2 separate regions of the Homo sapiens genome follow, and region 1 is linked to region 2. Evidence: fine-mapped expression QTL. Tissue or cell type: transverse colon. Region 2 holds a variant in brackets; the other region holds the start of a gene. All regions are shown on one strand. Distances are from middle to middle.

Region 1 (5,150 bases), 300 kb before region 2:
TTTCAGGGGACAGGCCTCGAAGGGACACCCAAAAGTGAGTAGTCATCCCCATCACCACCCGACAGCACAGGGTGTTGCCTCCATCCTGGACACATTTTCCAGTTATCTGGTGATGGGAAACCCTGCCAGAAAGGATTATATGGATGGGAGTGAGCCTGGGATGGGCAGGGCTGGAACCAGAATCCTGAGGCTTGGGAGAAGAGAATCAGGACTACACCCTTAGATCTCAGCACTTGGCAAACTTCCTCTCATGAGAGCGTCACGGCTGCCTCTGTGAGCTGAGGTATCAGGCCCCTCTTCCCTATGAATGTTGAAGATTCCACACCAGCCACCAGTCCCTGTTCCCTGAGTGATGAAGCTGCAGAGCTGTCTGCTTGCAAAGCCCAGTGAGGTTTTGCCTGAGCTGGACTCAGACTCTCCCTCAGATGGTGCCAATGGAAGGATAGTAAACTTAGGCCTCTCCAAGGGCAGGCAGCTCGTATGTGGCTGAGCACTTTTGTTTTTTGTTTTTTGGTTTTTTTTGAGATGGAGCCTCCTCTGTCACCCAGGCTGGAGTGCAGTGGCATGATCTTGGCTCACTGCAAACTCCGCCTCCCAGGTTCAAGCAATTCTCTGCCTCAGCCTCCTTAGTAGCTGGGATTACAGGTGCCCACAACCACGCCCAGCTAATTCTTGTATTTTTAGTAGAGACGGGGTTTTGCCATCTTGGCCAGGCTGGTCTTGAACTCCTGACCTGGTGATCCACCATCCTCAGCCTCCCAAAGTACTGGGATTACAGGTGTGAGCCACCGTGCCTGGCCTGGCTGAGCACTTTTTTAAATGGGAGCCCTCAGTTTTTATGTCTGTCATCAAAGAGAGTTGGGGTGGGAGGTCCCTGAGCCTCAGCTCCCATTGTCCCCTTTGAACCCCAGAACCTGCTGCAGACCCAAGTCCTGCTTTGTGCACATCCCCTGCCCCTGGTGGCCCTGGCAGTAATGCAGTATGAAGAGTGTGGGGAGGGGACCTAGTCAGGGTCCAAGGGGCCTTTCTGATGACCATTGGCTGACTTCTAGGGAAATGTAACACCCAGAAAGAAAAGGAAGGTGAGCAGCTGGGGCAACATTGGGAGAGAGTGGGGAGGTGAAAGTCAGCAACACCCTGTGCTATCAGGTGGTGATGGGGATGAGTATCCACTTTTGGGTGTCCATTCAAGGCCTGTCCCTGAAATCTCATAAGCCCCCATCTCCTGGACTCTCCTATCCACATCTTTTACTTGAAAAAGCCAAAGACACGCAGCTGCCTCTCTCCAACTCTCTCCCCTCTTCCTAGCTGGCCTCCAAAAACATGAAGCACTCCCTTATTAACTCTGTGGTGAGATTTTAACAAGTCACAATGTTATGTGGTCCCTAGCTCCACCGTTTCCCAAATCCACTCAGCCCAGCTCTTCCAGGCCTTTACTCTGATTTCTCTTATAGAGGCATTTCAGGGACTGTTGCCACAGGAGGGAAGGGCTGAGGGAGAAAGGCCCCTTGCTCTTTTGATGTGGAGGCCTCCAGCTGGGAGGGAGGAGCTCTTCCCTCTGAATCCCTGGAGCTCTTCCCCATCACAGGTACCTGCCTTTTTGCTGCTTTAGCCTCATCTGGGCTTTCTGTGGTTTCTTCTCTAGGGTGGCCAACTTGGGTGTCTTCCTCTGCCAGGGTCAAGGACAAGGTCAGTGATATTATGCTCCCTTCACCCAGTTATGCCCAGTTACATTGACCTGGTACCCTGGATAACTGGTGTGAGTCAAGCTGGTCCAGTGCTCCTGCCACCTCCAGTAAACTCTGATTCTAGATTCACTCCCTGCTGCAACACTCACTGTGTGTGGAACCTTGGGCATGCAGCCAGGCCTCCCTGAGACTGTTTCTCAACTTGAAAGTGTGATGGGAACCACACCTACCTCACTGGGCCTCGTGAGGACTCAGTTATATGTAGCCGTCACCATTGTTCTCATCATCATCTCTCTCAGGAAGAGCCAGGCACAAGCACTCTCAAATTTTTCTCCTTTGAAGCTCCTCATTACCCTGTGAGGCTCATCATCCCTACATTTTTTAGATAAGAAAACAGAGGCCCAAAGAGGGCAGTGACTTGCCCAGGGCTCTACAGAAGAGGCCGGCTCCTCCCCACACCTGGAGGCCCTGACCTAGCTGACTTTACCCCACAGCCCAGCACTATCCCTGACTAGGGTCCCATCTTGGTTCTCCATGCTTGTTTAGGTCCTCAGGCAGGCTCAGCTTTGGTGGGAAAGAGACAGGGTGTTTTGGGAGGCCTGGGCGAGTGGCACCTCTAACCAATCTGCTAGGCCCTCACCTCTCAGTCTCACTGAGACACTCCATTAATTGGAAGCAGACCCAAAATTGCTTCACAGACTGAAGGTGATAATTGTCTACAGCCAGCTGAAGCAGCTGCATCTCCTGGAGGACTTTGATCTCCTGCAGCTAAAGGGAAAGACAGGATGCTGAGACAGGGCCTGCAGCATACACATAACTATAATTCAGAATGTAATATATACACACACACGAAAATATAATCAGAAAGTGATATAATCTTATATGCAAGGTTAAATACAAATGTCTCTCAGGCAGGGCCAGGCCCCCAGCACAGGGAGGACTCGCCTGAAAACGCTGCAGGCAAAAACCTGTCACCCTTGCCTCATTCAGCCCAGTGTCTGATTACATCTTCTGTCACTTAGGATTGAAACGGGTGGGGCCTGGAGCCCTAGCCAATCAGTGGCGCCAGCGTGAAACTGTCCAATCAAGTGCGCAGCTACAGAGGAAGAGGCGGCCTCTTCAATATGGCGGGGCCTTTGTCTCCTAGCTTCCGGGCTCTGATCCTAGTTCGCGTCTCCACTGTTCCATCTCCTCCGTTCCTGGAGTTCCTCGGTGACTCTACTATAGCTTCTGTTATCCTGTGACCTGCAGGTACTGGGAGATCCATAGGGAGGACGGCGGAACATCTGGAGGCTGGGAAATGGTGAGTGCGTGGAGTGGGTGTCCCGAGAATGGGGAAGAGGCTGTTTGAATCCGGCCGGAACCGGCTGCGGTGGTATCTGGGCCTTCTCGCGGTCTGCTCTGGAGTCTGCATCCCCGAGTCCCCGCGGGCACAGCTCAATCCTCATTTCCCTCCATCGCAGATTAGGGGCTGAGCCAGCAGCCAAAACGCTACGTCTTGTTTTGTCCCTAAACTCGAATTTCTCCCCAGCTCAGATCCCTTCCTGGGCAGCTCTGTGCCGCAACCTCGAGTCTCCCTCCTCCAGATTGTGTGGGGGTGTTGGGAGTGTCATAAGACGGGAATTCTCATTTAGGGTCTGGAGTTCCTCCGTGGAAGAAGCAGTGGGCCGTGGGGTCCCTAGTCCCTCCTTTCTCCTTTTAAAAATAAAATCATGGCCCTTTTTTAAATTTATTTATTTTTGAGACAGTGTCTCACTCTGTTGCCCAGGCTAAAGTGCATTTCGGTTCACTGCAGCCTCCACCTACTGGGCTCAGATGATCCTCTCACCCCAGCCCCCCAAGTAGCTAGGACTAGAGGGGTGCGCCACCACGCCTATTTTGTTTTGTTTGTTTTTGTAGAGACAGGCTTTTGCCATGTTGCTCAGGCTGGTCTCGAACTCCCCGAGCTCAGGTCTCAGGTGATCCGCCCGCCTCGGGCCTCCTAAAGTGCCGGGATTACGTGCATGACCCACCACCCTAGCCTAAATTGAGGCAACTTTAGGATATAATTTGGATGTGTTTTCCAGCCCAAATCTCCTATTTAAATGTAATCCCCCATGTTGGAGGTGGGGCCTGGTGGAAGGATTGTGGGCCCGGATTTCTCACGAATAGTTTAGCACCATTCCTCTTGGTATTGTCCTCTCAATAGTGAGTGAGTTCCCTGAAGTTCATCATTTAGAAGTGTACAGCACCCCACCTTGCCTCTTTTTCAAGCTCTTGCTTCACCTTCATCCATGATTTTAAGCTTTCTGGGTGGGGCCTCCCCAGAAGCAGACGCTGGTGTTATGCTTTCTATGCAGCCTGTGGAACCATGAGCCAATTAATCCTCTTATAAATTACCCAGTCTGAGGTATTTATAGTAATGCCAGAAGCGATTAATACAAATAGTTTACTTGCACAAACAGTAATTTATCAATCAGAGAACACCCAGCTATGATTTGTTGTTTGGGGGCTCAAAGGAGGGTCTTGGAACAAAAGGTTGTTTTTTTTTTTTAAGAGGTATGAGGAAGCAAACCAGATTCAATATTTGATTGGTTACAGTTACGTATTGCATTTGCAGCCCTCCGGTGGAAATGTCCTGGTTATGTAATTAGAGCTTTTTATTGGCAGCTTGTGGTTGGTTAAGCCTAAGTTGTTTTGTTGTTGTTGTTGTTGTTTCTCAAAGTTAATAATTTACCAGAAATTCCTTCGACGTAGTTAGGTTTCCTTAGGCAGAATCCCAGGGCACCATGGCCACTTCAGCCTAATTGCTAGCTATTTAATTATTTTAATGCTCCACAGGGTCGTTGGTTTTCTCTGCATTTTTCAAATGTTTGGCAAGCAGGGTCTCAAATCTAAAACTGTTCTCCCAGCCTAACTGTTCTAGGGACTGTATAAAATTCTAAATTTCCAATTTCTTTCCCACATTCCCAAATGCCAACTATCCCTCTCCAAATCACATTATGAACTATCAGTTCTTTATTTAATTTTAAAACGGATGTGGCATTTTGTTTATTTTTGTTTAACAGAGCCGTGGGTGGCTCTTTTTAATATATTAGTCTGTTTGTGCATATTTCACAGGACAGAAAAGCAAAGAGTAGTCACCTGACACTGCGCATCTCCTCTCATCTTCTCTAGGCACGCGCGCCTTCCCAGAATGTCTTTGGATCCTTTGCAGGGTGATGTGTCCTCAGTCACTCTCCTGTGTTTTCCTGGTCCAAGTATTACAGCTTTCTGGGGATGATCCAAGATACCCACAAGGACCATATCTCTTGGAGTGTCTAGCAAACATTAGCCCCTGGGTCATCTCCTTTCAGAGAAGAGCCTGAGGCATTGGGTGGAGCCTCTCAGGGGAGCAGCTGGATGCCCTCGTGCTGAGAGCAGTTTCCTGATTCACCCTTCCTCTAAAAAGCTAACTGCTTTAACATTAAGATTTTTTTCCCC
Region 2 (5,150 bases):
GCCCTACTTTCAGAAGACATTGTGACATATTGCTGGGCCCAGCACCCAGGTGATGTGAGTCTCCTGCCTGAGCCCTGCTCACAGAGGGCATTGTGACATACTTCTGACTTCATCAACTATTTGATGTGACTCTCCTATCTTACCTGGGCTTTGCCCATAAGAAAAAATGTGACATATCTCTGGGACCAAAACCTAGGTGATGTGACTCTCTTCTGACAGGGTCATGCCCACAGAAGAAAGATGGCTTATTGCCAAACCCAGCACACAGGTGAGGTAATCCTGTCTGGTCCCTGCCCACAGGGGTTATTTTGACATATCTCTAAGCCCATCAGCTAGATTACGTGACTGTCTTCTTCCTGTAAACTGTACAGAGAGAATATTGTGACATATCACTTGGTCCAGAACCTATGTGATGTGACTGTCATGACTGGGCCCTGTCATTTGGGGTGATTGTGAAACAGGTGGCATGAGCAGGACCTAGGTTATGTAACACTTTTCTTCTCTCTTAGCCCTACACACAGATGACAATGTAGCATATCTCTGGGTCTTTCACATAAATAATTTTACTTTTTTGCCTGGGCCATGTCCGGTAACATATTGCTGGACCTAGAAACTAGGTGATGTGACTCTCCTCTACTGCTTAGGCTCTGGCAAAAAAAAAAAAAAAAAAAATTGTGGTGTATTGCTGGGCCAGTACCTAGGTAATGTGACATTTTTCTATTGCCTGGGCCCTGTGTATTCTGGGTATTCTGACATATCGCTGGGCCCAACATGTAGGGAATGGGAGTACCACCTGGGCCCTGCTCACATGGGGCCTTGTGACATATCTCTTTATCCATCACCTAGGAAATGTGTCTCTCCTCTTCTGCCTGCACCTTGCCAACAGAGAAAATTGTGACATATTACTGAGCCTAGCAACCAGGTGATGTGTCTCTCCTGCCTGGGCCTGGCTGACAGAAAGCAGTGTGATATATTCCCGGGCCCAGCAAACAGGTAATGTGACTCTCCTGCCTAGTCCCTGGCCTCCAGGAAGATTTTGACATATTCCTGGCTCCAAAAAACAGGTGACGTGACTCTACTTATCATTCCCTATCCACGGGTGTAATTGTCACATTTATCTTGGCCTAGCTCACAGATGGCATAAGTCTCATACCTTGAACCAGCCAATAGCAGAGATCCTGTGTCTCTTAGCAAGGCTTAGGCAAATAGGTGAGTTCATGGGCCTCCGCTTTATAAAGATTGTAAATGCCATTCTCTTGCATATTGTGTAAAGGTCTTGAATGGTACAGAAAGTGTCATTACAGAGCCTAGCACACAGGTAAGGTTGTGTTTCTCATATGCTCACCCTAAAAACCCTTAGTATTGTCAACCTCCCACATGGATGGAACTCACTAATGAGGTTCTTAATCTCACAAACACAGTCCATAGTTGAAATTGTGACTGTCATATGTGAACATTCAGCCAGAGTTGAAATGGTGAAACATTTCTAAACCCAGCTCCTAGGCAGGTAAGGCATCTTCTTTCTGGACTCAGCCAATTGGAGACATGTTGACTCTCATACCTGGGCTTAGGGCCACAAGTACAATCATGGGTCCATACCAGCATGAAGGTCTCAGACAAGATTGCACTCCCATGCATACAGTACAAAGCCCTCAAGTAGGACAGAGAATGTTCTAATAGACCTCAGGACACAGGTGAGATTGTGACACTCATAAGCACACCCAGCCAACAGTAATGATTGTCACCCTCCCACATGAACACAACACATTGTTGAGATTCTGAACCCCACAATAAAAAAAAAGTGCCAAAAGTTGAACAATTGTCTCATCGTTTATTTCAGTCCACAGGTGGGTTATTGACACTCAGACCAAGATTCAGTACACCTGAAAGACTGTGACTCCACTAAGAAAACAGTCTGTGAGAGGAATTGAGGCTCTCGTCCATGGATCTAGTCCACTGTTGAGATTGTGAATCATGTACTTAGGCCCAACATAAAAGAGGTGTTGATTCTCATACCTGGAACCTGGACATGTGCAGGATTGTTAATCTCATTTATGAACATTCCTGCAGCTGTGATTGTGACATATGCCTCTGCCCAGCACCTGAGTGATTGAATTCTTCTGCCTGGGCTCAGCCCACAGATTGGATTGTGAAACATTGCTGAACCCAGGACCTAACTAATGTAAATCTATTCTCCTGCCTTGGCACTGCCCACTGGGAACCCTGTGACATATTGCTGCACCCAACACCCAGGTTATGTGGCTCTCCTGCCAGTGCCTTGCCCACACGGGCTGTTGTGACATATTGCTGGGTCCACACCCAGGTGATATAATTCTCTTGCCTAGGCCCTGCTTACAGAGAGCATTGTGACATATCTTTCTGCTCATCACACAGTTAATAAGACAGTTTCTGCCTGGTTTCTCCTTACAGGGTGTATCAAAACAGATTGCTAGGCCCAGCACCTAGCTGATGTGACTCTTTCTAGGTTTTGCCCACAAGGAACATTGTGACATATCACTGGGCCCAACA[G/T]CAAGGTGATGTTGCCCTTTTGCTTTGGCCTTGCTCTCAGAAAGCATTGTGACATATTGCTGAACCCAGCACCAAGGTGATGTGAGTTGGTATGCCTGGACCCTGCTAACAAGAGGCATTGTGACATACTTCTGGGACCATCATCTATTTGATGTGACTCTCCTTTTACCTGGGCTTCTGTTGTAAAAGAGATTGTGACATAACTCTGGGCCTAACAGCTAGGTAATGTGACTTTTCTTTTGCTTGGACCATGCCCAAGGAAAGAGAGTGATGTATTACTAAGCTCATCACATACGTGGTGTAATTTCTTCTGCTCGGTCTTTGCCCACAGGAATCATTTTGCTGTATTTCTGATTCATCACCTAGTTGATGTGACCTTTCTTTTTTCAGACTTGTCTGCAGCGCAGATTGCTACATATTGCTTGGCCCAGCTCCTATGTGATGTGACTCTCCTGTCATACCTGAGTGCTCCCCACTGCGGTAATTGTGACATATAGCTGGGCTCTGGCCCTAGTTTATGTAACTTTTCTTCCTGACTGCTACTCACCTGGGGGCATTGTGACATATCTCTGAACCTCTCACCTAAGTGATGTGAATCTCCTGCTTGAGCCCACTTCTCAGGGAGTATTATTATATATTGTCACACACAGCAACTAGGTGATATGACTCTCTCTACAGCTTGGACTCTGCCCAATAAAAAACTGTGATGTATCACTGGACCCAGCACCAAGGCTATGTGACTCTCCTGCCGGGGCTCTACATTCATTGTTTTTGTGACATACGGCTGGGAATAATGTCTAGGTCATGTGACTGTCCTGCATGGACCCTGCCCACAGGGGTATTATGACACATTTTTTTAGTCATCTAGGTGATGTGACTCACTTCTGCCTGGGCCCTGCCAGAAAGAATGATAGTGACTTATCACTGAACCCAGCACTTAAGTGATGTGACTCTCCTCTTTTGCCTGGACCTTGCATGTTTTTGGTATTGTGACATATTGCTGGGCCCAACACCTAGGAAATGAGACATTTTTGCTTCAGCCCTGACTACAGGCAGCTTTCTGACATTACTCTGTATCCATCACATAGGGCATACGTCTCTCATCTCTTCTGCCTGCACCTGCCCACAGGGAAGATGGTGACATAACACAACAACTAGGTGATGTGTCTCCAGCCTGGGCCTAGCCCACCAGAAGTATTGTGACAGCTGGTTTCTGAGCCCAGTGATATGTTACAATGCTCCCTGTGGAGCCCCCTGTGACACCTGGTCTCAGAAACTAGGTGATGTGACTACTGCCCAAGCCCTGCTTTTAGAAAGGAATTGTGACTTATCACTGGCCAAATGTGACATGAGCCTCCTGCCTGGTCCTTGCTTTCAGAGAAGACCATGACATATCTCTGTTCCAGCACCCAGGTGATGTGATAATACTGCCTGGGCTCTCCCCTCAGGAAGTATCAAGACATATTTCTGGACCCAGCCCATAGGTGGTATGACTGTCCTCCACTACTTAGACTCTGCCCAAGAAGCGACTATGATGTATCAATATTCCCAGCACTTAGATGATGTAACTCTCTTATGCTTGGGCCCTGTTCACATAGTATATGAAACATATGTCTGGGTCCATCACCTAGTTGATGTGACTCTTCTGCATGGGCTCTGTCCATGGAGATATGAAATATTTTTTCATTCATCCCCTGCCATTTCTCTTTTGTGCCTCTTTTGCCTGGGCCTTGCCAAAAAGAGGATTATAATGTATCACTGGACCCAGAACCTAGGTGAGGTGACTCCTATTTTGCCTGGGGCTCACATATTTGGGTATTGTGATATAGGGGATGGATGGGAGGCACATGAGTGGGCTTTGCTCACAGAAGGCCTTGTGACATCTCAGCATTCATTACCTAGGAAATGTGACTATTGTCTTCCATTTGCACCCTGCTTACAGGGAAGATTGTGACATATTGCTGGACCTAGCAACCAGGTGATGTGTCTCTCTTGCCTGAACCCTGCCCACAGGGAGCATTGTAACATATCTCTGGGCTCAGCAGCCAAGGGATGTTACTATCCTTCCCGGTCCCTGCCCTCAAGTAATATTGTACAAATCTTTGGCCCAGCACCCGGGTGATGTGACTCCCCTGCTTATTACCTACCTGCACGTGGATTTGTTACACATAATGTTGTTCCAGCTCATAGGTGTGATGATGACTCTCATATATTGAACCAGCCAATAGTTGATACAGTCTCTCATAGCTAGGCTTAGAAAAATGGATAAGATTCTGGGTCTTCTGTTTTTATAAAGGTCAGAAAGGAGTATCACACTCTCACATATGGTATAAAGTCTTCAGGTTGTACACAGTGTGTCATTGCAGAGCCCAGTGCACAGGTGAGATTTACTTGTGTGTATGCACACCCTACTATCCATTAAAATTGTAATTCTCACAGACGGACAGACCCTACTTGTAATCTCACATATGGATGCAGTCCACATTTGGAATTGTCATATGTGAACATCCAGCCAGATATGGGATAGTAAAACATTTTTAAATGCAGCTCATAGAAAGGTGAGGGCTCTCCTATCTAGACACAGAAAATTAGGGAGATGTTGACTCTTATACCTGGGGTTA

Direction of the effects. Alleles are on the strand shown, and positions count from the first base shown. SD is a standard deviation of normalised expression in the study named.
For the expression in transverse colon of the gene that starts at base 2,799 in region 1, T is the high allele of the variant in region 2 and G is the other (moderate effect, 0.74 SD a copy in GTEx).

The links. PIP is the estimated chance that this variant, and not a neighbour inherited with it, causes the effect.
Region 1: ZNF736 starts here. The variant in region 2 is fine-mapped to the expression of ZNF736 in transverse colon (GTEx, PIP above 0.99). The same link has a PIP of 0.9 or more in spleen.

Annotation. Positions count from the first base shown.
Region 1 is chr7:64,311,163-64,316,312 of GRCh38, forward strand. ZNF736 (zinc finger protein 736) reads left to right here and starts at 2,799. Exons shown (of 4, transcript NM_001170905.3): 1 at 2,799-2,991. The coding sequence starts at 2,989. RefSeq lists an enhancer at 2,852-3,031.
Region 2 is chr7:64,611,580-64,616,729 of GRCh38, forward strand. LOC100128885 (a long non-coding RNA gene) reads left to right here. Exons shown (of 3, transcript NR_077227.1): 3 at 2,920-5,150. Among named protein-coding and RNA genes, the nearest start is that of ZNF680, 51 kb to the left of the region's middle. The variant G/T (reference allele first, on the strand shown) is at 2,530.